Linked DNA regions of Homo sapiens. The protein of the gene in region 4 purifies or fractionates together with the protein of the main gene of each other region. This does not show direct contact. Each region holds a gene or a part of one and is shown on either strand. Other genes may lie near its edges.

Region 1 (3,500 bases), on a different chromosome or scaffold from region 4:
ATTGCTATTCCTAACTTGAAAAATGACTCCATTTAGCTAGTGCCATGACACAAAGTAATGAGATCTGGTTTCCTATGGAATTGAATTATGTGATGGCAAACTACTTGAGTGTTTACATCACTGGCCACCATATCCTTCTAATTCTAAAATTAATTAGATTGTACATGTTAAAACACACCAGAATCAGGTTTCTGTGTTCTGTTGTTTTAAGGCTTCACTTTCAGTAGCAAAAGCAATAGGTCAATCCATTTCCTTTTGTGAGTAAATATAGATTATTGCTTTCCAACATTTTTTACTCTGATGTTCAAGTCACACTGTACTTCAAAATGCAGGACAGCAACTAAGAGGAATTTGCCATCTGGCTAACTCATCTATATTTCAAATAAAGACTTATTTCTGGCCAGAAGGCACTTCTACCAAGATACAGTTATTTAGATTTTTAAAAATTTAGCTGACTTTTCCTATATCATAAAATTTATTTAGAGAACAACAACTACTAACAGAGAGCCCGCTGTTAGTATTTATTACTAGGCAAAGTGAAGTCAATCTTCTAACACCAAAGCTTAATTAACATATTCCGGTAGCAAAGGAGACTAAAAGAATCTAAAAACTAAACCACAGAAAAAGAAATTTAATCCATATTTTAAATGTTTATCATAAGGAGCAATTTGCAATAACCTTTCAGGCATCTATGAAACACATACAATAAAAAATTCAGCTTTGCAATAATCTTTCAGGCATCTATGAAACACATACAATAAGAAATTCAGCCAGGCATGGTGGCTCACACCTGTAATCCTAGCACTTTGGGAGGCTGAGGCAGGAGGATCGCTTGAGGTCAGGAGTTCAAGACCAGCCTGGCCAACAGGGTGAAACCCCATTTCTACTAAAAATACAAAAATTAGCTGGCTGTGGTGACATGTGCCTGTAATGCCAGCTACCTGGGAGGCTGAGGCAGGAGAATCGCTTGAACCCAGGAGGCGAAGGTTGCAGTGAACTGAGATTTCACGCCGCTGCACTCCAGCCTGGGCAATAGAGCAAGACTCCGTCTCAGAAAAAGAAAAAAAAAAAAGAAAAGAAATTAAGGCCTGGTGCACTAGCTCACACCTGCAATCTGAGCACTTTGGGAGGCCAAGGCAGGATTGTTTGAGCCCAGGAGTTCAAGACCTGCCTGGGCAAGATGGTGAGACCCCAACTCTATTAAAAACAAACAAACAAACAAACAGACAAACAGGCTAGGCACAGTGGCTCATGCCTGCAGTCCCAAAGCTGTGGGAGGCCAAGCTGGGAGCATCACTTAAGGCCAGGAATTTAAGACCAGCCTGGGCAACACAGTGAGACTCTCTCTCTACAAAAATATTTAAAAATTAGCCAGGTGTGATGGTGCACTACTTAGGAGGCTGAAGTGGGAGGAAGGCTTCAGCCAAGGAGTTCCAGGCTACAGTGAGCTATGAGGGCCATTGCACTACAGCCTGGGCAACAGCACAAGACCGACCTTGCCTGGCGAGGGGGAAAAAAAAGAAGTTAAAAAAAAAGTATTGATTTATTTATCTTTCCATAGCACAAGGGCAGGGTCTCAAATGTGCATTTATCTTGAATTCACCTATACACACTAGAAGAAAGATAACTAATTTAAATATCGGTTCCCTTAGCTGATCCTCATTCACATGCACCTCTCTGAATATAAATACTTCCCTCACTATGCATGAATGATTGTATTCATTGTATTTTTTACATATTGTGACTCCTAAATACAAACCAACAACTTCATCTGGGGCTCACAGGAAGAAAAACAGCAGTTTTTTCCAAAGCCGAAATAAAACTTGCCTGAGGATATAGAGAAAAAAAAAACCCAAACCAAACCAAAGCATTTTTGCTATTCTCTCACTCAACAATCAACACAGTATAATTCTGTGAGGGATATGTCCCCACACACCAAGCAACCAACCAATTCTGTAGCAGACACCAACCAGCTGGGTGTCCTCTAATTCAGTTCAATTCTGACACTACCTACCTGGATGGAGACCGCGTCAGATCCCATAGGTTGAGGGGTGAGTCCCACAAGACTAGCCTCCATTTTAGATACCAACCACAAGAATCAGGTTGTTTTACCTGTAGTTCTAACCAACTGGCTATTAATCAGGGTTCCCATGACCCCCTCCTTAGGTTCTATTAATTTGCTAGACCAATTCACAGAACTTAGAGGAACTTAGAGGAACACTTTACTTACATATACTGGTTTATTATAAAAGCATATTACAAAGGATACAGATGAAGCAATGCATAGGGCAAGGCATGTGGGAAGGGCACAGAGCTTCCATGCACTCTCTGGGGCACCATCATCCAGGAACCTCTCATGTCCACCTATCCAGAAGCTCCCCAATCCCAGTCTTTTGGATTTTTATGGAAGCTTCATTACTTAGACATGACTAATTAAACCAGTGACGCTGGTGGTCATCAGCTCGTCTGCCTTCTCCTCTCCCCAGAGGTTGGACATTGGTTGAAGGTCCCAACCCTCTAATCCTGCCTGGGTCTTTCAAGTGACCAGCCCCCATGCTAAAGTTACTTAGGGGCTGCCAGCCATCAGTCAGCTCCTTAGCATATAAAAAGACACTAATCATTTTGGAGATTTCAAGGATTATAGGAGTCATATGCCACAGGAGACAGGGATGAAGGCCAAATATGTATTTTACAATATCACACTGGCCATGTCAGAGTTCTGCAACACTGGTATTCCTACAATTAACATGCTGCCTCCCTGAGATTTCAAGGGTAGCTTTGCTTGTAAGCTATTTTGTCATCTAGGCTCGCTTCAGAACCTAACCCACACCTCAAGTCATACTCCATCCTCCCTCCCCCCACCCTATATAACTCCACTTCAAGACCAAATTAAAAACAAAATAAAACAAAAAAACGCAGTCCCAGTTACTCAGGAGGCTGAGACTGGAGGACTGCTTGAGCCTAGGAGTTCAAGGCCAGCCCGGGCAACATAAGGAGATACCCATTTCCCTTAAAAAAAAAAAAAAAAAAAAAAAAACTTTGCATTACAATAACCAGACAAGGCCAACTAAGATTTTTTTTTTTTTTTTTTTTGGCGCAGTGGCTCATGCCTGTAACCCTAGCACTCTGGGAGACTGAGGCAGGTGGATCACCTGAGGTCAGAAGTTCGAGACCAGCCTGACCAACATGGTGAAACTCCGTCTCTACTAAAAATATGAAAATTAGCCAGGCGTAGTAGCACATGCCTGTAATCCCAGCTACTCGGGAGGCTGAGGAAGGAGAGTTGCTTGAACCCGGGAGGCGGAGGTTGTAGTGAGCCGAGATCGCGCCACTGCACTCCAGCCTGCGCGAAGTGGGCGAGACTCCATCTCAAAGAAAAAAGATTTTTGAAGCAAATATTTACCGAGAACCTATTATGTGCAAGATACAATGCTATGTACTAAACAGGCAACTGAGGAACTTACACTCATTCAGTAAAAGACATAAGGTTGGCACACAGC
Region 2 (6,154 bases), on a different chromosome or scaffold from region 4:
CCCTACGTGAGCTAGCACAGCCAGTATCAATATCTGCTTGCTAAGTATGTGTGCAACAGAAGGCAATCTGAACATAAGAACAAATTAAGACAGCCTAGAAATTGCACAGATGAAGAATCTACAAACAAGGACATTAAAGAATATTAAAGCAGCACAGGTAGGAGAGGCCAGTGTGGCGTCCACTTCATGGCCATGTCAGTCAGTGGGACTAGTTCTCTACTTTGAAGAGCTCAGGGACAGGAGATTTCACAACAAAAATGGGGAGGTAGCTTATGGCAGTTTCACAGCACTCTCTCTTTTTCAATATAACTTATACAATAATCCAAAGGTTGAAAGTAATTGGGAGAGTAAGAGACAAACAGAGAAAAAAAATCATTTAACTAAAACGTCCCAAACATACAACTTCATGACAAGACTGTAGTTTTTGTTATTGCTCACTTCACGGACATCTCGTTGCAATTTTGTGTTCATTTCTTCAGATTTGATGAGATCTTTTCTAGCCGTGTCCAGATCCTCTTCCAGTTCTGTCACATGACTGGAAAGGGAAGCCAGGCGTTCTTTCATTTGGCTCTGTTCCCTTGACTGCTTACTTATGATTTCTTGGAGCTCAATTACTTTAGCAAGGTCTTCCTCGTGGCTTAAAGAACCATCAGAAGATCTCTGATAGGGGGAAAAAAAAATCCTTAAATACCCTTGTTTGGTGAGCTATAAAATAAAAATACTTCCAGGAAATAGCTAAAATCAAAACTGACTTATGCAATCTGTTGGATTACACAACTTTCATGACCACTTCAGCTCTAAGCCGGTACTTTAGCAACTGTTTTCCACATAACCCGACACATACTGTGAACAAATGAAATCAAACAGAATAAAGACAAAGCCTACAGACTTGCCTTTCCACTCGTGCTTGGTGTATTTTCTTGTTCATGGTTTATGTCCAGCACTCCATCTGTTAGAGTTTTTTTCTGATTATTCTGTTCTTTAAGAATCATTAGCTGAAAGCAAAAAATTGAATATGAGTGTAAAATACCTTACATAAGAGAAATAAGTAAAGATAGCAAAACTCCTTTTGGAAAAACACAACTAAAAACTGCTTAACATAGTATAAAAGAGAAAGCATATGGCAATGCTACCCAATCCGAAAATAACCAGATCATTGAAGATGGAATTTATTATCCACTGGCCAGACGAGTCCTTAGGTAACCATCATTTTGTAGTCCTTAAAATGACTCAGATAGGCTGGTCCTCAATTGGGAAGATAAGTAACATGTGATATGTACAACTACAGTCCTTATACTTCTTTTACTTTTTTTTTTTTTTTTTGGAGACAGAGTCTTGCTCTGTCACCCAGGCTGGAGTGCAATGGTGCAATCTCAGCTCATTGCAACCTCCACCTCCTGGGCTCAAGCAATTCTCATGTCTCAGCCTCCCGAGCAGCTGGGACTAAAGGAACATGCCACAACTCCTGGCTAATTTTTGTATTTTTAGTAGAAATGGGGTTTCACCATGTTGGTCAGGCTGGTCTTGGAACTCCTGACCTCAGGTGATCCGCCCGCCTCGGTCTCCCAAAGTGCTGGGATGACAGGTGTGAGCCACCACGTCTGGCCTTATGCTGCTTTTAATAATTAAAGGATAAAAATAACCCCCCCCCAATTCAACTCATGATGAAGTCTCAAGCTTACCTCTTTGTGTGTGGCACCTAATTCCTCTTCTAACAAACTACATCTTTCAAGTGCTACTCGTAATCGCTCTCTCACCTGAAAATAAAAGGGGTTGAGTTTGTGTGTGTGTGTGTATACTGTTTATTTTATTCTTAATATATAGTTAAGTGTAATATATACACTTAATGTATATATTAGTGTAATATAACATAATAAAATACCATTAATGTCTGTCATTGATCTTACTGTCAAGAAAACTTGTTAATGGCTCTAAATTAAGTTTCAGAAAAATAAATCTTCCCCCGAAATATCAGGTTGTTGCAAAAGTAATTGCAGGTTTTGCCCACAATTACTTTTGCAACAACCTAATACTACCCAATTTGTAACAGCAAATCAATATACATTAGTAATTTTAAGACATTTAAGCCAATTAGTACTTTTTAAACCTACAAAACCCTGTCTTCTTAGAGAAGTTATTTCCAAGAATTCAAGAAGCTTCAAAAAACAAAAGTTACACCAACACTTGTGAAGCTGGCCTAATACACAGCATGTGCACAAACCAAGACTTATGTGGCTGATGGCACCTTTTCATCCAGAGCTTTGTGGTGTTCAAATAAGGACTTCAGTGCTTTCAGCACTTCCACTTCGCTGGACACGCCTGCTGGAGACTGCGCTTGTCTCTTCACCACGGTCATCCTAAGAGACCGCTCATGCCTGGAGACAAGGCATTCCAAATGCTCTAACAGCAGCTGAAATAAAAGGCCAAAATAAAGACTTGTTAAACAGCATTTTTAATTTCATGATTGAATCTGGGGCAAATAACTCCTTTACAGTCTCATACTAAAATGAAGTCCCTTCAATTCCGCAGAAAAACAAATTCCTCTCAATTGTATTAAAATATCATAAATTCTCATCACAAATTTCAAGCCATTAATGTGTGATCATGCTGACTAATCACAGTCTGCTCAGTGGGAAAAGGTATGAAAAGTATTTCAGGCCAGACAGAGTGGGTCGTCCTTTCGTTTTGACACACCGCCCCTCCTCCTGACAGTGGCTCCAGGGGCAGGCAGTGAACAGAAAGGTCACACTCACCCTGGTGTTATTCCTTTCTGCTTTCAGTTCAGCAATTTCTTCTTCCCTTTCAAGGAGCTGTTCCCTGCATACATTGAGTTCTTTAGTAAGTGCTGCGAACTCCTAGAAAATCACAAAACAAAATTAAATAAATAAGAAAGACCCCCTAAAGAAAGCCTTTCATCAAGGCTCCACAGTCTTCACACAAAGGCAACCTCATTACAAGTTATGGGGAAGGGATCTCAGTGATCCTCCAGAGAAAGAGGGCATCAATGGACCACACAGATTCCCTAACAAATCACAACACTGACAGACCATCTGACTTCCCTCTATCCCTGCACCCTGGGACAAGGACAGCAGGGAAAGAAGGGGAATCCAAGTCCACCTTCTCAGCAGCCAGAGAAGTCCAAAACATTTTCCTGAACAGGATCCTGACATGAACTGAATGAAGACATTTTAAATGACTCACAGACATGTGATCTAGAGTTGCTGGAGAGAGAGGAAAGATGGCCTAGAAGGCCACCACCCCTGTCCTAGCCTCCTTTTCTTCCTTTTTCTTTCTGAGACAGGGTCTCATTGTGTCACCCAGGCTAGAGTGCAATGGTGTGACCATGGCTCACTGCAGTTTTGACCTCCAGAGCTCAAGTGACCCTCCCAAGTAGCTGAGACCACAGGCTTGAGCCACCGTGCCCAGCCTCTCTTCTAAAGTAATATTTCTTCTGCAAGAATCCCTACTGTGGGTAATCAACTTCTAGCATGACAGCACAAGAAGCTCCACTGACCTGCTTGCTCCCAAGGAAAACAGGTGAACATTGTAAGAAAACAACTGTTCTGAGACTCTGGAGATCGTTCTAAGGGTTCACAGCAAACAACTGAAAATTCAGTAAGAAAGGCCAGAGTCTGTTGTATTTGAACCAAGACTGCTCCCTGCCTCCCCTTTCCAGGTCAGTGAGGCAGCGACTCTGTTCCAGACTGCTGCAGCTGATAATGTAGTGCCCTCTCCCCCAGTTCCACCCCACCCCAGCTACGTGGTGCTGATGCTGCATCCTGGCTAGTGGAGTCATGGGCAAAGTGGGCCTTCCTACCTCTGTCCAGCCTCCATTCTGGAATGGAGGCTCAACTTTGAGTGTGGCAGGCTGAGAATACTGGGGGTCCTGATCAGCTGTGCCCTGGCTCTGTAAGACGGTAGCTGCAGGGCTGGAGTGACAAGCTGAGAGGGCCCTGGCTGCCGCCATAAGACCAGGGGCGTCATTCAGGGAGAAACGAGTTTGGTGACATTTAAACCTCTTTAAATGTTAGGGCACTAACATTTAAACCCTGGGCACTCTCTTTAAACCTAGGAGCAGTGGAGGTCCTAGTGAAGGCAACTGGAGGTGTGGGTTTAATGGAGGCACAGCCTGGACTGCGGCTGGCTAGTCAGCAGGGAGAGCTGGAGAATTCTTGCTGCAGGAGCCCTCCAGAGTAGGAACAAATCTCCTAAAATGACTTCAGAAACTGTTTCTTAGAATTAGCCACAATTTCACTGAATTGGTTTCTAATTATCCCAGGGCACTGCTGAAGACAACAGAAACATATGTGGGGCTCAGAACTGAGTGTGGTCAGAGAGAGTGGAAGACAGCAGCAGGGTGACTGTGGACACATCCAAAGCTGCGCCTGGCTGGGGAGTAACAGCAGAGGCTGAACACAGCGGGGGTGGGGAGGGGACACAAGCACATTCCACTACATGAATCTAGCATTCACTGAACTGCTTAAGCTGGCAAGTTTTATCTTAGTATATTTTATTGCAATTAAATATATATAGACATTATAAACATATTATACAGTGAGTTTTGGAGACAAGGCTGCTCCTGAGACCATAAAATTAGCTAAAGAACATGAATAGCTCTTCAATTCAGTATTTCAGTGCATACTTGCAAACACAAAGAAATGCCAACAATACTAATGAAGATCACCCAAATGTGGCTTAAAACCTGGTAAGGATCTGTAAGTGCTGAAACCTCTTCAGAGATCGAACGCAGCATTCAGAAGCGGGCTCCTGGGCTGGGCAGCGTGCGGGAGGAGGGTAGGGAGAGGCCGCCAAGTAGACCGGTCTTCTGTCCATGTCCTCCCACCAAGTTTGTTTTCCTTCCTAAGTTTCAGAGATTTCTTATGTGCCAATATTAATCATATCAAATACCGATTTACATCTCTGATAATTAACTCTAGCTGACTGTCAGATCATCTAATGGCTAACTTTAACGAAACACTGTCATCTCATGAAGGGGTTCGTACATGAGGAAAGATTATTTCTCTTGCAGGCAAAAAGCAAACAGACTCAAACTAGCTTCAGTTAAAAAGCCATTATTAGGCCAGGCATGGTGGCTCACACCTGTAATCCCAACAGTTTGGGAGGCCGAGGCAGGCAGATCACCTGAGGTCGGGAGTTCGAGTCCAGCCTGACCAACATGGAGAAACACCATCTCTACTAAAAATACAAAATTAGCTGGACATGGTGGTGCATGGTGGTGCATGCCTGTAATCCCAGCTACTCAGGACGCTGAGACAGGAGAATCGCTTGAACCCGGGAGGTGGAGGTTCCGGTGGGCCGAGATTGCACCACTGCATTCCAGCCTGGGCAACAAGAGCGAAACTCCATCTCAAAAAATAATAATTAATAAATAGCCATAATATGGCACATAACTGTCAAGTCAAAGTACAGAGTCGGCTACAGGCCTGCCTGAATTCAGGACCTTGAATTTTATCATTGTGCCCCTCCATCTTGTCCCTGTCATCTGGGTCAATTTTGTGAAGTAACTGCCAATCCACTAATTTTGTCTTTGACTATGTCTGGTCCAGAGTCTATCATCCTGGCTAATATCCTTTTCATTTACTAGATTTCAAGTTCTTCTTCCTTTTTCTTTTTCTTTTTTGGGTCATATCTTCTTACTCTTGTTTCCTTTTGGGCAATTTCTTGTTTGTTTTCATGGATGCTAATTTATCTTTTTAAGCATCTTAAACATACTTATTTTGACAGTTTTTGCCAGACTGTCCTTAAATTTCCGATGCAGTAAATGCACAGCTCTGTAAGGCATCAGCTCTGTGAGGATGTGTATTAGAGGTCTTTGAGCATAGAGGAATTGGGGTCTCGGGCTCATCGCGACAGAAGGTTTTCTGTTGCTGGTGCTCTCCTCCCTGTCTAGTGGCTCAGTCCATTCAGGCTGCTGTAACTAACTCCCATTACCTTTTAAACAACAGAAATTCATTCTTCACAGTTCTCGAGGCTGGAAGTTCAGAAGCAAGACATCAGCAGATTTGGTGTCTGGTGAGGGCCCAACTGCCAGCTTCTATGTCCTCACATGATGGAAGGGACCAGGGATCTCTATGGGGTCTCTTCTAAGCACATTATTCCATTCACAAGGAGTCCACCCTCATGACCTAATCCC
Region 3 (6,154 bases), on a different chromosome or scaffold from region 4:
ATGCTAAAGAATGAAGCTGGACCCTTACCTCACACCACATACAAAAATTAACTCAAAATCAATCAATAATCTAAATGTAAGAGCTAAAACTATAAATCTCTTAGAAGAAAACACAGGGGTAAATCTTCCTGACCTTGAATTTGGCAGAGGAGATAGATACCAAGGAACGAACAAACAAAAAAATAGACACACTGGACGTCATAAAAGTTTTTTGGGTCAAAGGACATCATCAAGAAAGTGAAAAGACAATGCACAGAATGGGAGAAGATATTCGCAAATAATACATAAGAGACTTGTGTCCAGAATTGATGAAGAATTCTCACAATAATAAAAAGACTAATAATCCAATTTAAAAATGAGCAGAGTATAAACAGACATTTCTTTCATGAAGATATACAAATGGCCAGTAAGCACATGAAAAGATGACCAACATCATTACCAATTAAGAAAATGCAAGTTAAGTTAATGAGATACCACTTCATACCCACTACAATGGCTAGGATAAAGAAGTCAGATAATAACAAATGTTGGTAAGAATGTGGAGAAATTGGAACCCTCGTACACCGCCTGTAGAATATAGATTGGTATGAGCCACTTTTGAATACAGCCTGACCTTTCTATGGCCATACCACCCTGAACGCACCCGATCTCATCTGAATGTAGTCTGATACTTCCTGAAATGATTAAATGTAGAGTTATCAAATGATCTGGCAATTTCCCTCCTATTATTTCCCAGGGAAATAATATGTCCCAGGAAAAAACAAATGTCCATACAAAAACTTGTACATGAATGTTTATGGTAGCATTATTCATAATAGCCAAAAATGTGCAAACAAGTGTTTATCAACTGACAAACGAATAAATAAAATGTGGTATACCCACATAATGAATTATTAGGCTATAAAAAAAATAAAGTACTCTCCATGCTACAACACAGGTGAATCTTGAAAATATTATGCTAATTGACTGAAAGAAGCCAGTAACAAAAGGCCACATATTATTTGAATCCATGAATATGCCAGGTCCACAATAGGGAAATCAACAGAGACAGAAAGTAGATTAGTGGTTTCTTAGGGCTGAAGGGTGGGGTGGGGTGAGGAGATAGGAGAGTGTTAGGAAAAGGATAACAAGGTTTCATTTTGAGGTGATGAAAATGTCCTAAAATTGACTATGGTGATGGTTGCACAAATCTGTGAGTATACTAAAAAACACTGAATTGTCCACTTTCAATGGGTGGATTGTATGGGTTGTCAATTATATCTCAATACATATGTTAAAAAATTTAAATGCCCAAATATTTTTGAACACTGCTTCTCTTTATGGTTTTACATCAAGGAGTTTGCAGTTTTGCAAATGGAAATAGATATGTAAAGCTTAATGAATTCATCCAATTACTCAAGTAATTTTCAATATATTAAGAAGGTAGCTAGAAAACTTTAGAACATTGAATGCCCATCTGGTCAACACTCTAAAATAAATCCACTAAATCACAGCTCAATTTTCCTCTATAAACAGTTATTTTTTTCTGATACCAAAGATATTCATTTTATTTAAGTATTATAGTTAGAATAACCCCCACTCCAATATCTTTAATAAAATGAAAAGTCATTTTACAAACCGATTTGAGTTGGCTATTTTCATCTTTCAACTTCACAACATGCTTGATTTTTTGTTTCAAATTCTGATGACCCAATAATTTAGCATATGAATCTCTTATTTTATTTAGCTGTTCCTGAGCTGCACCATGTTCATTCAACAATGCCTGTTTTTCTACTTCAAAAGCATCTAGTTGTAGCTGAAAAAGATTTTTTAAATAAAGTTAAGACTTAAAACAGTTTGATCTTACTAGTTTCATATAAACCATAAACACTAAAGAAAATTAAAAACACAAATGAAAACAAGGTATGTTCACATATTCTCAGGGCTCTCCATAGATTCTCTATGAGAATCTTTTAAACTTTGTATTTTTCATTTTAAAGATCATTAAAACAGAGGAAAAGAAACAAGGTAAAAAAGCCAGCTGGCCAGTTTTATCTGTATCAGTTAGATTACCACATTATAACCAATACTGTACTTCTAAGTTCCAAAATCAGCATTTATTCTTTTTTCTTTTAAAAGATCAGTATATTGAGAAACAATGAGTATTTGCAATAAGTCATACCACAAATTAAAATAGGTTAATTATCAAAAGCTCATACCAGGCAAGCCCTCTGAGCCAAACTTTTAAGTTCCACATTACAAAGTTTTTTTTTAAACCACAAAGGGTCCATTGAAAAAATTATGTCAATTAAATTTGTCAATTATACTTCAATAATGTGGGAAAAAATTATGCATAATTTAATAAAATGTATAAACCTTTAATAGTGAGCTAAATTGGCACTGTAAGTGCAGAGCAAAATGATCTTGCAGAAAACCCGAGTCACTGTCCTCACTATAATAGGGAACAAAGTGAGTCCCTAAAATAAACACAAGTAAGTTTACTCCTAACTGACAAACCTGAAAAGGTTTTGTTTTATTATATAGTTCTTCATAGAGGAGACGCCACTTGTTAATTTCTTCAGTTAATTCTGCTGTTGTATTTTCTTTTTCAGCTTTTCTGCATGGAAGAATTAAATTGAGAAAAACATAGTTATTTAAAAAATCACATCGTAACTGAGTTAACAAGGCACTCAGGTTCTAATCATAGATTACCTTCCTTCTTCATCTTCCAGCTGTTTTCTAAAGTCTTCCTCCTGTTGCTTGAGTTGGTTCTGCAAATCAGTTATTTTTTGAAGAAAAGAAACTGTGATTTCTTTAATTTCTGTTTCCTTTAGTGCTGACTTGGTCTGCAGATCTAGAAGCATCCTTTGGTTTGAGAGAGAAGAGGTCACTAAACATTTTATAGCCACTTTCATTAATTTTTCCTTTTTTTTTCTTTAAACCTCAAGGAACTCTTCAAGAAGTGTCATTTTTTAACTGAGTAAATTCTTAATTTGCAGTATAAGATGGCCAAAAGCAAGCCAAGGGACAGTTACTAGCTGGCTTTCAACATTAAATTGTCTTAATGGTTCTAAGGCCATTATTTGCTCTATATACCTTACATATTCTTGATTTGAGCTCTCAGTTGCCAAAATCTGATGCTGAACATCCTCTGCATTTTTCCCAGCCTTGGCCGCTTTTTCCTGTAATGATGAGTTCTCCAGCTTAAGATCTTCTATCTCACTGGCTGTTAACGCTTTATAGCTTATTAAAAAGAAAAAAAAGTCAAAGTAGTTTTCTAACTATTGCGTATGACAATCATAACTGATTAGTTTACACTTTATATACTTCTAAGTAAAACTAAAAAGTTTTTAATGTATTCATGCATTTAACACAGGTAAGAATTCAGTGTTCTGAGGCAAGTACTAATGAGTTTACATGGCATCTGCTGTGTATTCAAAGAAAAAAAAATCAAGTGCCTACTAGGTGCAGGAAGTATGCATACAGAGATGGAAAAGAAATCAACTACCAAGCATGAAAATTACTCACAATTTAAAAAATAAGAAGTGAGACTAGAGCCTAATGAGTAAGAAAGGCTGGAGCAGAAGCTGGTGGCATGAGGGTCATCACCGCAGGGCACAGTGGGCTTACCTGGCGGACAGACGGGAACCATTAAAGGTGTCCAAGTAGGCTGGGCGTGGTGGCTCATGCCTGTAATCCCAGCACTCTGGGAGGCCGAGACGGGTGGATCACCTGAGGTCAGGAGTTCGAGACCAGCATGACCAACATGGTGAAACCCCATCACTACTAAAAACACAAAAAATTAGCCAAGCGTGGTGGTGGACACCTGTAATCTCAGCTACTCGGGAGGCTGAGGCAGGAGAATCACTTGAACCTGGGAGGGGGAGGTTGCAGTGACCTGAGATAGTGCCATTGCACTCCAGCCTGGGCAACAAGAGCGAAACTCCGACTCAAAATAAACAAATAAATAAAATAAAAAGGTGTTTAATTAAATGTGTAGCTCACTCTAGAGCTATGAGGAAGATGGATTAGGGCAGGGGAAAAGAATGGAAAATTGAAGGATCAACTCCAAAACAATTATTTATCAGCCCAGGTGAGTGATAAAGGAGGCTTAGACTAAGGAGCTGGCAATGGAAAGACACAAGATCTCTTTTGGAAGCAGAGTAGGAAAATTCAAGAGATAGACTGAATATTGGGGGTAAGGAAGAGAGAATGATGAAGGATGACTCTAAGATTTACAGAATGAAAAGCTGGGAAGATGATGTCACTGATTACAATAAAAACAATGAGAGACTAGGGGTAGAAAGCAATGGAAGGATCAAGAGTTGGTTTGGACAGGTTAATATTAAAAGACAGTGTGATATCTACTTGAAGATGTCAAGTGGGTAACTGGATATGTGAATATGGAGCTGTAAAGAAAGGTCTGGTTTGATGAAATAAATTTTAATGCCACGAGTATATGGATAGTGACTAAAATCACAGAATAGATAAAAACCCCCTGAAGCACTATTCTTCAAACTAACGAGAAGGGAAATTCCTTTACAGGATTGATATTAGCAATAAATATATATATATAAAATTTACATATATTTATATGATTTATATGTTCTGATACAATAAAAATTATAAATAAAACATATACACTTATAAATTATTTATCTATGTGTCTGTCATAATGTATCACATGTGGGAACAGATCACTGGGGAAACAAGGTACAATTTAATGAATTAAATTAAACTAGGCAGTTGGTTGTCCATAGGGAAAACAAAAAATGAATTTGATCCCTATATTGCTACACACACAGAAATCAGTTCTAGGTGGAAAAATGGAAAGTGAAATTTTAAGACTTTTAGAAGAAAACTGGTTGAATATCTTTACACCTTGAGATAGAAAGAAGTTCTTAAATGAGAAGCAAAAGTACCCACATACAGATAAATATTTTAACCATATTGAAATCAAGAATTTCCACTCATCAGAAGAAACCAAAAAGAAAATAAAAAAATAAGCTAAACTGGCAGAAGATACCTGTAACCCATATGGCTGATAAAGAAAACCTCTACAAATCAATGAGGAAAAGATGATAACCCTATAGACAAATAAACAAAAGTCATAAACAAGCATTTTATGGAAAAGGAAAGATGAATTATCCACAATAAGAAGCCATTTTACACTAAGTACACTGGCAAAGTTTAAGAAGTCTAACAAGCTTTGGCAAAGAAGATAAATGGAAACTTATACAACACTAGTGGGAGTGTAGATTCTTACTCCCACATTGGAAAGTGATTTGATATTAAGTTTTAGAGTTGAACATTCATATACCTTTGGCTTTAGAGAAATTCTTACATACATGTATTCTTATAGTCACAAAATAACTAATAATAACTAACCAAATGGGAAACAACTCAAAGTCCAAAGAATGAATAAATAAGTTGTGGTATATTCATACAATAAAATACTCATAGCAGTGACTATCAACAAACCATAGCCTCAGACAACACAATTCAATCCTGAAAACACACATAATGCAGAATGAAAAAATAAGTCCCAGGAAACGGCATATACTATGATGACATTTTTTGGTAAAGTTCAAGGAGAAGGAAAATTACATAATGCATTATTTGTATGGATATACGTGTCATAAAATTATAATACACAGGGGGGAAAAAGCAAGGAAATAATTAGTGTAGACTTCAGGACAGTGTTATCTGTCCCATTTTCATGGGATGGCAGAGGAACTTACATATGGATACTAAGTTGTTGAAAATCTTTTGGCTTACTGGTTGTCTTTTATAGGTTCATGCATGTCAGTTTTATCTTCAAGCTCTACAGTTTATGTACATGTTATGCATTCTTTTGTATTTATTAAATAAAAGAAAGGAAACTCTCCCCCAAAATGAGCTAAAGTAAATGTGATAAATAAAAATGTTAACATTAATATATAGGTATTCATTATATTGGCCTTTGTAATTTGTAGTTCCACCCAAAATAAACTTTTTATTTAAGGAGAAAATAAGTAGAAGGCATGGGAGGTGAGGAAGTGGATATAGAGACAATCTTCTCTGTCAAGAGAAGAAAAAGGAGGAGAAGGAAAAGGACTGAAAAGGAGTAGAATTTGGGGTTAAGAAGGGAATGACTGGTGGTGTGAGACAGCTACAAAAGGAAGTTAGGGTCAGA
Region 4 (5,162 bases):
TTTGGCTCTCCTCTCCCTCTGCTGACACCTGGCTGGGAGGGGCCCCTGAAGAAGACAGCGAATGCATCACGGCTGAGTAAGGGAGCTCTTACTCACCCCCGGAGCCCTAAGGAGGACACAGCCCTGGAGTCCTGGGCCCACTAAGTCTCCCCTTACTAGGCACACTCGGTCCCTTCAGACACTCTTTGGGCCTCGGTAACCCTTTGTGGGACAGGAGCTCTAAAAGCACGGACAAAAGGCACCAGAAAGTGGGCTTTTCACCACTGCCTGGCTCAAATGCGGTATGGGGAGTAGAAGGAACCCAGGACCCCAGAGCCTGGCAGACAGGGGTCCCATCTGTGCTGTTGCTGTGGGCCGGCTGTGTGATGATGGACACACCATCTGGCGAAGCCTCTGTTTTCCTCTCCTCTTGTAAGAATCACTGGGGGGGATCAAGGAGATTGCCCCATCCTCCTTTGCTTTTGGAGGCATTGCTTGTAAGAATGTGACGGATGCCATGCGGTATGGACACAGAGGATTTGGGCCAGCACACTGACACATACCCCACCAGGCAGGCTCCCCAGCCACACTAGAGAAGCACACTGTGTTTTCTTAGTTTGTCATGTTTGTCTTTATTCATCTTTCCGGATCTTGGTCCCCACCGCCAGCACCCACCCACCCCACCCCCAACCCCCACTGTCCTGACCACCTGGAGCCAAAAGCCTCTTTTCCTAGGTCCAGAGTCCTCTCTCCCTCTGGCCAGAGCCTCAGAGTGGGAAAGGGAATCCCTGGCCCCCAAGGAGGTTTTCTCTCAGCCGCCCCCTGCAATCCCCCACCGCCTCACCCTCCTTCAGAACTGACATGGCTCCTGCCTCCCTACCCCGGCCCCAACCTCTCCAGCCTGGACTGAAGCATAAGCACACTGCTCTTTCTGGAGTTCTGGAGAGGAAGTGGGAAGACCGCCCTCCCCCATCAGAACAGGGGTTAGAGGAGCTCTCAGTCAAGGGAAAGTATGAGGAGGAAGAGGGACGCGCGCGGGGACTGGGCTGGGACTTCCGGCCTGTGAGGCAGGGAATGCGGCTTTTCGGCCAGTCGTCCTCGAGGCACCCCAAGGATTTCAGGGTCGAAGGCTCATTCCGGGGTTCCAGCCAGTGTCCGTTGCGTTGCGGCCGCAGACACCCGGGACTGCGGTGGAGCTCTGCTCAACCTAGGTCTGCAAGTCGGGCGGCCTCTCGTTCGAGCCGGCTGCACAGCTCTAGGCGGCTCTGCCTGCGCTGCCGCGCCCCAAGGCGGCCCCAGCTGGTGGCCTCTGCGAAAGGCCGCGCGTCCAGCGCCCGCAGCAGACGCGGCAGGTCGCGCAGCAGGCGGTAGCGCGGCAGGGCGCGCAGCGGCGGGGGGATGTCGCCCTTGGCGCAGAGGCGACTGAAGTAAGCGAGCAGCAGCAGCGGGCGCGGGGCAGCGTGGAGCAGGGCGAGCAGGGGCGCGGCGCGGGGGTCGGGGCCGCTGACCGGGCGAAGGTCGGCGCCGCTCCACAGCAGCAGCACAGTGCCCTGCTCCCGCGCTACGCGCGTCCGCGCCGCCCAGAGCCACGGCAGCGGGCCCACGCGCGCCACGTGCCTCCCCTCCCACAGGTCCACGATCACGTCGCGCCCGCCGCCCAGCGCTGCCCGTAGCAGTTCAGCCAGCGCTCCCACCAGGCGCCGCTGCGCCTCCGAGTCCGCCGCGTGCAGGAGGAGCACTGGCCGCGCTGGGCCCGGGCCTGGTGGCGGGAAGCAACAGATGAAGGCTGGGCGGCTGAGGGACTGCTCAGCCCTCTTCTCCCCACCCTCTCGGGATACCGTAGGGTGCTCGCCTCTCCGCCCCCGCCCCCGCCCCTTATTTGCTCTGGGGGTTGGTACCGAAAACAGCCCTAGCCTATAGGGTGCTTATGGGCTAATTAGATAAAGGCACCCCTTCTGAAGAGAGGGTCAGGGCTCCAGGCTGGGCGAGTACAGCGCAGGCTGGATTTCTGCCCCACTAGCCTTTTGTACAGAGACTCAGTACAGTGACAATATGCTCAGAGGGCCCTTTGCCTTGCCTTAACCATTCCTGCTCACTTGGGGGCCTGAGGCTCCCTGCCTGGGTAACAGAGATTGGGTGCAGTGCTGAGAGCTCAGACAGGGGAGGGTGAGGGGGCAGCTAGTCTCCGAGCTGGGCAGGTCTGACTTCCCAGGTTACCCCAGGTGAGCTTACCTGACTGTGGGCGCCGGCAGGTGAGGGCCAGAACAACACCCAGTAGGGTGAGGAGGGCCAGCAGTGCCAGGATCAAGAGCCCCAGGTGTCTGTAAGAGACTGAGTCAAGCAGGATGAGGCCAAGCCCAGTTCCTCAGTGCCCAGCCTCCCTCTTACCTCCCCCTCCCCAAGAACTCACCATCCGGACACAAGAGGTGCTTCCAGGCAAACTGGACATCTGACCGCCACACCTGAGGGCACAGAGCCCCCCACCCCTATGAGCCAGGCATCTTCTCCTCCCGGGGAGCTGAGTGAAGCATGGAGCTGGGGGAGAGGGGAGTCCCCACTGGCTAGGGAATTCTTCCCAGGTGGGTTTGTGTCTGCTCCAGCTGCTAGCCTGGCACAGAACAGGTCAATGGTGGCAAACTCAAGTGTGACAGGGGCCAAACTCAAAAAGTAAACTCAAAGTTGACCAGGGCTGCTGTGAGGACCTGGAGAGCACAGGCCCTGACTGAAACAATCAGATGGCACTGAGCTCCAGGCCATTGTCACCATGCCAGAATGTGGACACACGGCACTAGGTTTTTCTGATTTTTCAACAGAGGCCAGAAATCCAGCTTTGTTTATATATGTAAATGGTGGTAAGCAATTTCAATTTAAAACACTGTGCTGGCCAAACCAAACATTTTTGCAGAATGGATTTTCCAGGGGTGGGTGCCACTAGGGGAGCAGATGCCAAGGCTCTGTATGTAGAGTGAGGGTAGGTTTCCTTACCAGGACACAGCACCCTGGCCTCAGGAAGGGAATGATGAGGTCTAGTGACACTGGGCTTGAGCCCCGGGCCTGTAGAAACAAAGAGCAGAAAGGCTGTCCCCAGGGAGGTGAATCTGGCCCTGTCTGGCCTTGAGTCTTTGCCCCTGCTGTTCCTCCCCACCACACCCCCAATCCTACGAGGCTTAGGCCAAGTGCCACCTCTGACAAGAAGGCTTCCCCAGTCACTCCGGCTCCCACTGATCTTTCCCAGAGCTCAGCTCCTGCTGCAGTCAGGTATTTGTCAACAGACAGACTCTGAGTGTGTCCTCTGTGCCAAGCCCTGAGGAAAGAAGGCGGGTGCGGACATTGTCTGTGTCCTCTAGCAGCTCACAAACCAGGAAGGCTGTCTCACTTTACTCTCCTGCACAGCTGAAGAGGTATCAAAACATATCATTGAAAAGAATGTAAGTTTTAAGGTCAGGAGACCTGGGTCCAGGCTTAACTGTTGCCTTTGTAGTCCCTAGCTTTGTGGTCCTTGCATGGAGGTAGGTTACCTCTCTTTCCTAAGGCTCACTTCCCTCATTTTTATTTTAATTTTTTTATGTTTGTTTATTTATTTATTTATTTATTTATTTATTTTTTGAGACAGAGTCTTGCTCCGTCGTGCAGGCTGGAGTGCACTGGTGCAATCTTGGCTCACTGCAACCTCCACCTCCTGGGTTCAAGCTATTCTCCTGCCCCAGCCTCCCAAGTAGCTAGGATTACAGGTGCACGCCACCATGCCCAGCTAATTTTTGTATTTTTAGTAGAGACGGGTTTTGCCATGTTGGTGAGGCTGGTCTCAAACTCCTGACCTCAGGTGATCTGCCCTCCTCAGCCTCCCAAAATGCTGGAATTACAGGCGTGAGCCACTGCGCCTGGCCTACTTTCTTCATTTTTATATGGGGGATAATAATCTTTATTTTACTGGGTTATTGAGAGCATCAAATGGGTATATGCACATGAATGTCTTTTTAAATAAACTACAATGTATATTCATTTATTGGTAACAGCTATTATTAGTCTATGAACTCCTTAACTGTGTTATATACTTTTCTTGTATCTCCCAGAGCCTGCTACAGGGTGGGCACAAAGCATACTAAATTGGACAGAATTTTAATTAAAAACATTTTTTTTAGAGTCAGAGTCTTATGCTGTCACCCAGGCTGGAGTGCTGTGGCATGATCATAGCTCATTGCAGCCTTGGACTCCTGAGCTCACACGGTTCTCCCACCTCAGCTGGGACTACAAGTGTGAGACACTGCATGTGGCCATCTTAAGCGTGACTTGGTCTTTCATACTGTGTTGCTATCACCTGTCTGCTTGGGAGCCCTCATACAATGCAAAACAAACATATAAGCTGCAAGTGAGCATTTAAGAAATAACTGTTTGAAAGAGCTAGTCATGCTTAGTCAGCGTGGTGCTGTGGTATTGAGGGTGTACTTGACTGTGGTTTTTATATCAGATACATGGAAGATAGTCTGATAAAGTGCTCCTAGTTACGTAACAGGTGAAATTTGTCAATAGTTTACAGGATTGTGCAGAGCCTGTCAGCTGCATGGGCTCTGCCTCCTAGGATAGATAACTTCTGCACAGGTGCCTCGTGGAGGCAGGAGAGTAGTGGTAGCGGACAGCTGGGTTCAAGGGAAGGCATCAGTATTAAATGTTGTTCTGTTAGGCTAGAGCAGTGGTCCCCGACCTTTTTGGCACCAGGGACTGGTTTCATGGAAGAAAATTTTTACACAGAGGTTGAAGGGGTTGGGGTTTGGGGGAATGGTTTCAGGATGAAACCACCTTAGATCATCAGGCATTAGATTCTCATAAGTAGCTCACAACCAAGATCCCTCGCATGCACCGTTCACAATAGGGTTTGCGCTCCTATAAGAATCTAATGCAGCCACTGGACTGACAGGAGGCAGAGCTCAGGCAGTAATGCTTGCTCACCCTCCACTTACCTCCTGCTGTGTGGCCTCGTTTCTCACAAACCACAGACAGTTACTGGTCTGCGGCTCACGGATTGGGACCCCTGGGCTACAGGACACCTGAATGTGGGAGGGCCAGTCCCTTGCCTCTGTTATTCCTGTAAATTCAGAAACTGAAAGGATTAGAAAATACTCCCTTAGCTTGCAGTGAGCCGAGATCGCGCCACTGCACTCCAGCCTGGGTGACAGAGCGAGACT
Region 5 (6,154 bases), on a different chromosome or scaffold from region 4:
ACTCAATCCCTTATGAGGTGTGTTGACTGTAACTTAGTGTAATAATAGTTACAGCACAGGTGTTTATGAATAATTTAATTTTTAAATAGAATTGAGAAAGGCTCCAAGGATTCTTATAATAATAACATTCTTACTTATGTGTTCTATGCTTTCTTGAGACACAAAGAACTCAGCACTGAGATATGCTCCTACCTCCCAGTCTATTTTACCTTCGACTGTGAACATCAAACGCCATGCAAATGTACTATTAGGTACATAACACCCTTATCATACATTCCTTGAAGACAAAGTGATGCTACTGAAAGGCGGCTGGACACCTGGATGCATCCAACATGCCCTCTTGATGTGTTCCCAACACTTGCTTAGAACATACAGGAAAGATCCAGAGCTTGAGCAGATCAGCCAATAAAGAGCATGTGTATTTATGCCTAGAGGATCTTTCCTCCAACTGTGAAATGTGGACCTCAGAAGTAATATATCTTTGCAGTACCAGAATCATAACGCAGTCTTAATAGCTCAAAGAGATATTTTTCAATATTTGGTCATAGATGGTCAATTGTGGAAGTCCATAATCACTAACCAAGTTGAACATAAACAAATAGAGTCATTCAATTTTAAATATTAAATACCAGCAAGATATAGCAATAAGAGTGGGAGACCAAAGGTTAATATGTTATCCCACTGAGCCCAGGGAATGATGGCCTATGGGAGAAAGAGACACCCGCGCAGGTAATTTCATTACAAGGCATGTGAACAGTGCTGCAATAATACCACAAAGTGTAGGGGGACCTGAGTGCAGAGATATGAAGAGACCATATAAGAGGTCAGGTGTAAGCAATACCTTCAGGACGGCATGGAGCTGCAACCAGTGACTACAGGAACTAGAGAGGGTTGGGAGAGATAAAGGGGCCAAGAAGTACCAAAGAGAGAAAAAGGCAGAGGGGCTGCAGAAGACAAGAGGCCCTGAGAGATGAGGGGAACTTCTCTGGATGCTCCAAAGGCTAGAAATGGGAGTGTCAGCAAAAGTACTGACATTGTCAGAGGTATGATTCTGGGTTGGACTGGCCTGGCCCTTCTGTCCAGAATTTTTTTTTTTTTTTTGAGAGATGGAGTCTTGCTCTGCCACCCAGGCTGGAGTGCAGTGGCGCAATCTTAGCTCACTGCAACCTCTGCCTCCTAGGTTGAAGCGATTCTCCTGCCTCAGCTTCCCAAGTAGCTGGGACTACAGGCATGTGCCACCACGCCCAGCTAATTTTTTTTTTTTTTTTTTTGAGACGGAGTCTCACTGTTGTCACCCAGGCTGGAGTTCAATGGCACAATCTCGGCTCATTGCAACCTCCGTCTCCTGGGTTCAAGAGATTCTCCTGTCTCAGTCTCCTGAGTAGCTGGGATTACAGGCACCCACCACCACACCTGGCTAATTTTTATATTTTTAGTAGAGATACGGTTTCACCATGTTGGTCAGGCTGATCTTGAACTCCTGACCTTGTGATCCACTGGTCTCGGCCTCCCAAAATGCTGGGATTACAGGCATGAGCCACCGTGCCTGGCAATTTTTGTATTTTTTAGTAGAGACGGAGTTTCACTATATGTTGGCCAGGCAGGTCTCGAACTGCTGACCTCAGGTGATCTGCCTGCCTCAGCCTCCCAAAGTGCTGGGATTACAGGCGTGAGCCACCACTCCTGGCCCAGAAATTCTTAAACTTTAACATTTCCTCAACATCTCCATAAACTAGGTGGACATTTCTGTTTTTTCTCATTCTAGTTCCATCTTCTCCCTTTATTTTCCCCTCTGATGCCACTTCTCGTCAAAGCAGTACTGAGGGAGAAGGTCAAACTCTTTCATTTTATTATATATTTGAACAAAAACGTATTTCCAATATGTATACACTCTTGCATCTCTTTGAGAAATTTAATATACAAAATCTAAACTTAAAAAACAGATAAATGTAAGAGAGACAAATTGTTATTTACTTTATAAAAATAATTTGCCACATCTGTTTAAATAAAGAGTGTATTTTCCCTAGTTGAAAGCATTTAAGATGTGATTTGTTTTGAAAAATGTCATTTACACTCAATGTTTAAAAACATATCTATTGTATAAAGAACAATCTAGGTTTATTCACTTGGATTATTATAGTAACCACTGATGAGCTGTATGAAAGTGATAAATCTCAAAATACCTGCATCTCCCTCTTTCTCTTTGGATATGAGGTAAAATATGTTATTAATACTACCTATTTAACAAAAATATGCAGAATGTAAACTGAACACAACATGTGCACTGCTGAATACAACTTAGGAATAAAGTGATTATTGCAAGTTATTACACTTACAAAATGTACACTTCCAAATAAAAGAAGATTATCTAATTATCGTATAATTCAACAAGATCTAGGGAATTGATCTGGCAATATAATATGTTTTGTCTTACATTTCCCATTCAATTGTTCAATTGCCTAGATTGCCCAATTTCCTCATTGTAGCAGTTGTCTTCTGAATATAAATATAAGTCCCATTGTTAATCCAGGGACTTCCAAGCAGATGATGTCACTTCAGTTCACCATCTTACTGACTTAGGATCACACATACATTACGACTTATACCTATTTAGCTGAACATCACTCAGGTGAGGAAGCTAACTTTTGAAGGGTCAGACACCACATTTATTTAATATGCTCCATGAAAAAATTAGTCCAAGATAATAGTAGCACTCTTAGTATACTTTGCCAACAATGACACGGGCCTGAAGAACCCAGCACATGCCACCAAAACGACCAACGATGTAATGTGTACTTAGTTCAACCAGACTGTGAATGATCTGCTATGTCTACAGGAAAGATGGAACGCTAGATTACTTTAAATAGCTCTGACTTAGAGAACATACCTATGAAGATGAGGAATTAAAAAATCTTATAAAGTAGCTGTTCACATTAGTACCAGTATAGGAGACAGCCAAAATCTAAGTTATAAACAGGTAATGAAAAATCCTCAAGGACTAACTGAACCATGTTTCTCCCTACCTCACTTGTCAACATTCCCAAGTTCTCTCTTTACTAACTGCAGTTCTTTCAGGCACTTATAATCATCAAATGCAGTTCAAAAAGAAATATATCCAACAACAAGAATATTAAAAAAGAATTTCAGTCTTCTGTATGATTAGAAACTGTTTCAGCCCAACAGTCAGGAATAAAAAGGATTTAAACTAATAAACCATTAACTGAAAAACTGAGAGAGATGTAGAGAAATGTGAATTTAAATGTAAATTCTGCCATCAGGTAAATATAATATAAAGCTAGTAGTTATAAAGAGGAAGTTACTCTAATTACTTCTAAGTTGCTAGGCCAAAAATTCCACAATAATAATTCTACCTCCCAATTGTTGTTTTTCAGAGGTACTGAGTTTTGCCTAGTGCTTTGGTGATGCTTCATAATGTTTACAAGACACCATGCGTCCACTCCATGGAAATAATCATCAATGAGAGAAGCAACATCATCCTAATCAGTTGCACAGTTAAACAAAAAAAAAAAAAAAAAAAAAAAAAACGACATCACTGAAGTCAAGAAGCACAAAATGACAAATGGTCAAGTTCCAACAGCTAAAAAGATCCAAGACATTATGAGCTTTTAATGAGTGAAACATGCCATGAGAAAGAGACCTTCTGTCAATAAATCCAAATCCTTGTTCACTAATTAAACCATCTTATACAGTGTCTGAATATGTAGACACCAGACTTCAACATTTCTTAATTATATTCAATTCCAGGCATATTTTTCCATTTAATTGACATTCTGAAATGCCTTTACAGTCCTATCAGATAGGTACCAAATTCTCAAGAGAGATTACCACACACTTCTGAATTCTTATTCATTTGATTGAAACTGTTATTAGCAAAGGTTTTTTTTTTAAGTGGAAAGTGTGGGAAAGATTCACACCCCATTCTATCCATAACATGGGCGATGTTAAAGTCATCTGCATTTGGCCCACTTTCATGTGTACATTTCTTTGCAGTGAAGTTCTCCATAGCCAGGCCAATCTGAGAAAACCCTAGCTGCAAAATCCACCCTAGCATGGGACGGTACCACATGAATCACATAACACACTGCTCACCCAATCACAACAGCAACTGCTATCATTAAGCCACCACTTAGAACCAACAGAGAATTTCAAACCACAATCAAAAATAGATTTCAGAGGTCCAAAATATTGATCACATAGACTTAAAAAATCAACAAAATGTCATGTGTGATAAATGCTCTAGGTTTCAAAAAAGACCAAGCTGATCCTGCTACCAAGATATAGCCTCATTTTGCTTTGAAAGAAAACACACACAGACTTACATAGAATTTATCTGACAAAAAAAAAAAACCCTGATATTTATACTGTCATTAAGCACATTTGTCACTAAATTTAATCTGTGTCATCTGGCATACTCTTAGATGTTTACAATTATCAAATAATGTTCAATGATATTTAGTAGCATTAATAATTTGGGGCTTATCTCAAAATATAAAACATCAATAGCTGCTCCAGAGTGCTCACTTTTTGACCTTCCATGGTACTGAAAAGGCTACAATTTTTTTCAGATTGTTTGGAATTTAATTTAGTTGAAGTCCTGAAGTTACAATTAAACTTCCACTTAACCTTTCATAACTGTGCCTCATTCAACAGCTGGGCTTATCTCCAACATCTCAAAAAAGAAAAGAAAGAAAGAATTAACTGAAATATTATTTGCAACTGCTCTGAAAAGTACAAGTAGGATCAAGTCATAGAGAACGTCCAAGGTAAAAGTCTGCCTTTTCACTCACATTCTGGAAGCTAATGTTACTTTGTAAGCCATTTTTTACAAATTTTTTTAAGGTAAAAAACCAAGCAACAGATCTAAATGATGAATACCTAAAGGACAGAACACTCTGAGGTGTTCTGTGACAAAGTTAACCTTGAGATTCATAACTGAGTCTCAAACATAGGAAAACAGAGGACTAAGAATACACCATGTGCACCTGCATGCAGGCTCCCAGACACATTCAAAAATCCTAAAAGTTACCTTTGAAATTGGGGGGTGGGAGACCACAAGGGGATAGTGGAGAAAGGACATGAATAAATTCTGAAGTCTTCTCAAAATATTAACTAACATTCCGACAGCCCATTTGGGCTGCCCCATGAATACGTTCTTCCAAAAAGGAGCTCTGCACTGCCCCCTGACAAATGAAGGAATTAATTTATTTCATAGTGCCTTGCATACATTAGGGCTGTAGTAAGAATTATTAAATGGAATTATATTCACTTTAATAACTTACACTCCTCTTAAAAGTTTACTCCACCTCACATTAATCTCTCCCTCCTCCTTGAGGCTCCTGTTCATAGACATTCTTTTGTCAATTAATAAACATTTTTAGATGTGACTTCTAGTGTACACACACAGGCATCTCTCATTTTCTCAATAAACAGCACGAAGCAGAAGCAATGGATATATTTTACTATTCTTTGAATCTTGCCCACTGTCTTGTGAAAGAGGTAGATTCAGTAAATATCGCTGAAAAGAACTTTAAAATAATTTTTTTAAAAAATAAATAACAGGGCTGAGGACGGTGGCTCATGCCTCTAATCCGAGCACTTTGGGAGGCCGAGGTGGGTGGATCACTTGAGGCCAGGAGTTCGAGACCAGCCTGGCCAACATGGTGAAACACCCTGTCTACTAAAAATATAAAAATTAAGAGGGCATGGTGGTGTGCGCCTGTAATCCCAGTTACTCGGGAGACTGAGGCATGAGAATCACTTGAACCCAGGAGGCGGAGGTTGCAGTGAGCCAAGAACACGCCACTGCACTCCAGCCTGGGCAATGGAGCGAGACTCTGTTTCTAAATAAATAAATAACAAAAATAAAATAGGGAAAATAGAGGAGAAAGCAAGACATTTTTTAAAGACAAAAAATTATTTTAAATTCCATGTGACTTTACAGAATTTTAAAAAGGGATATATTTCAGATGTACAAAGGCAAAAGTTAAAGAAACAACTTTCCTTTATTAAAGAGTCTATAATTCACAGTTTTGGAACCCTGGAAGAGCAGAACGTTGAAATACTAACAACTGCTCAAGGACTCCTCTCAGGGTCCTCTGTATGACTTTTCCGCCCACGGTAGGCAACACCTTCA

What was found.
Region 1: the proteins of IL17RE (region 4) and PSME3IP1 purify together in Homo sapiens (affinity purification with mass spectrometry; one large-scale study listed by BioGRID and IntAct). This does not show direct contact.
Region 2: the proteins of IL17RE (region 4) and PPFIA1 purify together in Homo sapiens (affinity purification with mass spectrometry; one large-scale study listed by BioGRID and IntAct). This does not show direct contact.
Region 3: the proteins of IL17RE (region 4) and HMMR purify together in Homo sapiens (affinity purification with mass spectrometry; one large-scale study listed by BioGRID and IntAct). This does not show direct contact.
Region 5: the proteins of IL17RE (region 4) and FAT3 purify together in Homo sapiens (affinity purification with mass spectrometry; one large-scale study listed by BioGRID and IntAct). This does not show direct contact.

Annotation. Positions count from the first base shown.
Region 1 is NC_000016.10:57,179,540-57,183,039, forward strand, and holds part of PSME3IP1 (PSME3-interacting protein), read right to left. Parts: intron 3,012-3,500; exon of another isoform or gene 2,078-3,011; coding exon of another isoform or gene 2,015-2,077; intron 1-2,014. UniProt on the Homo sapiens protein: Promotes the association of the proteasome activator complex subunit PSME3 with the 20S proteasome and regulates its activity.
Region 2 is NC_000011.10:70,321,103-70,327,256, reverse strand, and holds part of PPFIA1 (liprin-alpha-1), read right to left. Parts: intron 2,856-6,154; coding exon 2,754-2,855; intron 2,450-2,753; exon of another isoform or gene 2,411-2,449; coding exon 2,246-2,410; exon of another isoform or gene 2,130-2,245; intron 1,758-2,129; coding exon 1,683-1,757; intron 996-1,682; coding exon 894-995; intron 661-893; coding exon 439-660; intron 158-438; exon of another isoform or gene 3-157; intron 1-2. UniProt on the Homo sapiens protein: May regulate the disassembly of focal adhesions. May localize receptor-like tyrosine phosphatases type 2A at specific sites on the plasma membrane, possibly regulating their interaction with the extracellular environment and their association with substrates.
Region 3 is NC_000005.10:163,479,710-163,485,863, reverse strand, and holds part of HMMR (hyaluronan mediated motility receptor), read right to left. Parts: intron 3,261-6,154; exon of another isoform or gene 3,223-3,260; coding exon 3,076-3,222; exon of another isoform or gene 2,845-3,075; coding exon 2,692-2,844; exon of another isoform or gene 2,597-2,691; coding exon 2,497-2,596; intron 1,796-2,496; coding exon 1,619-1,795; intron 1-1,618. UniProt on the Homo sapiens protein: Receptor for hyaluronic acid (HA). Involved in cell motility. When hyaluronan binds to HMMR, the phosphorylation of a number of proteins, including PTK2/FAK1 occurs.
Region 4 is NC_000003.12:9,911,827-9,916,988, reverse strand, and holds the end of IL17RE (interleukin-17 receptor E isoform 1 precursor), read right to left. Parts: intron 5,063-5,162; coding exon of another isoform or gene 4,938-5,062; intron 3,284-4,937; coding exon of another isoform or gene 3,034-3,283; coding exon 2,965-3,033; intron 2,588-2,964; coding exon of another isoform or gene 2,442-2,587; coding exon 2,390-2,441; intron 2,311-2,389; coding exon 2,212-2,310; exon of another isoform or gene 1,739-2,211; coding exon 1,182-1,738; 3' UTR 592-1,181; downstream 1-591.
Region 5 is NC_000011.10:92,230,020-92,236,173, reverse strand, and holds part of FAT3 (protocadherin Fat 3 isoform 1 precursor), read right to left. Parts: intron 1-6,154.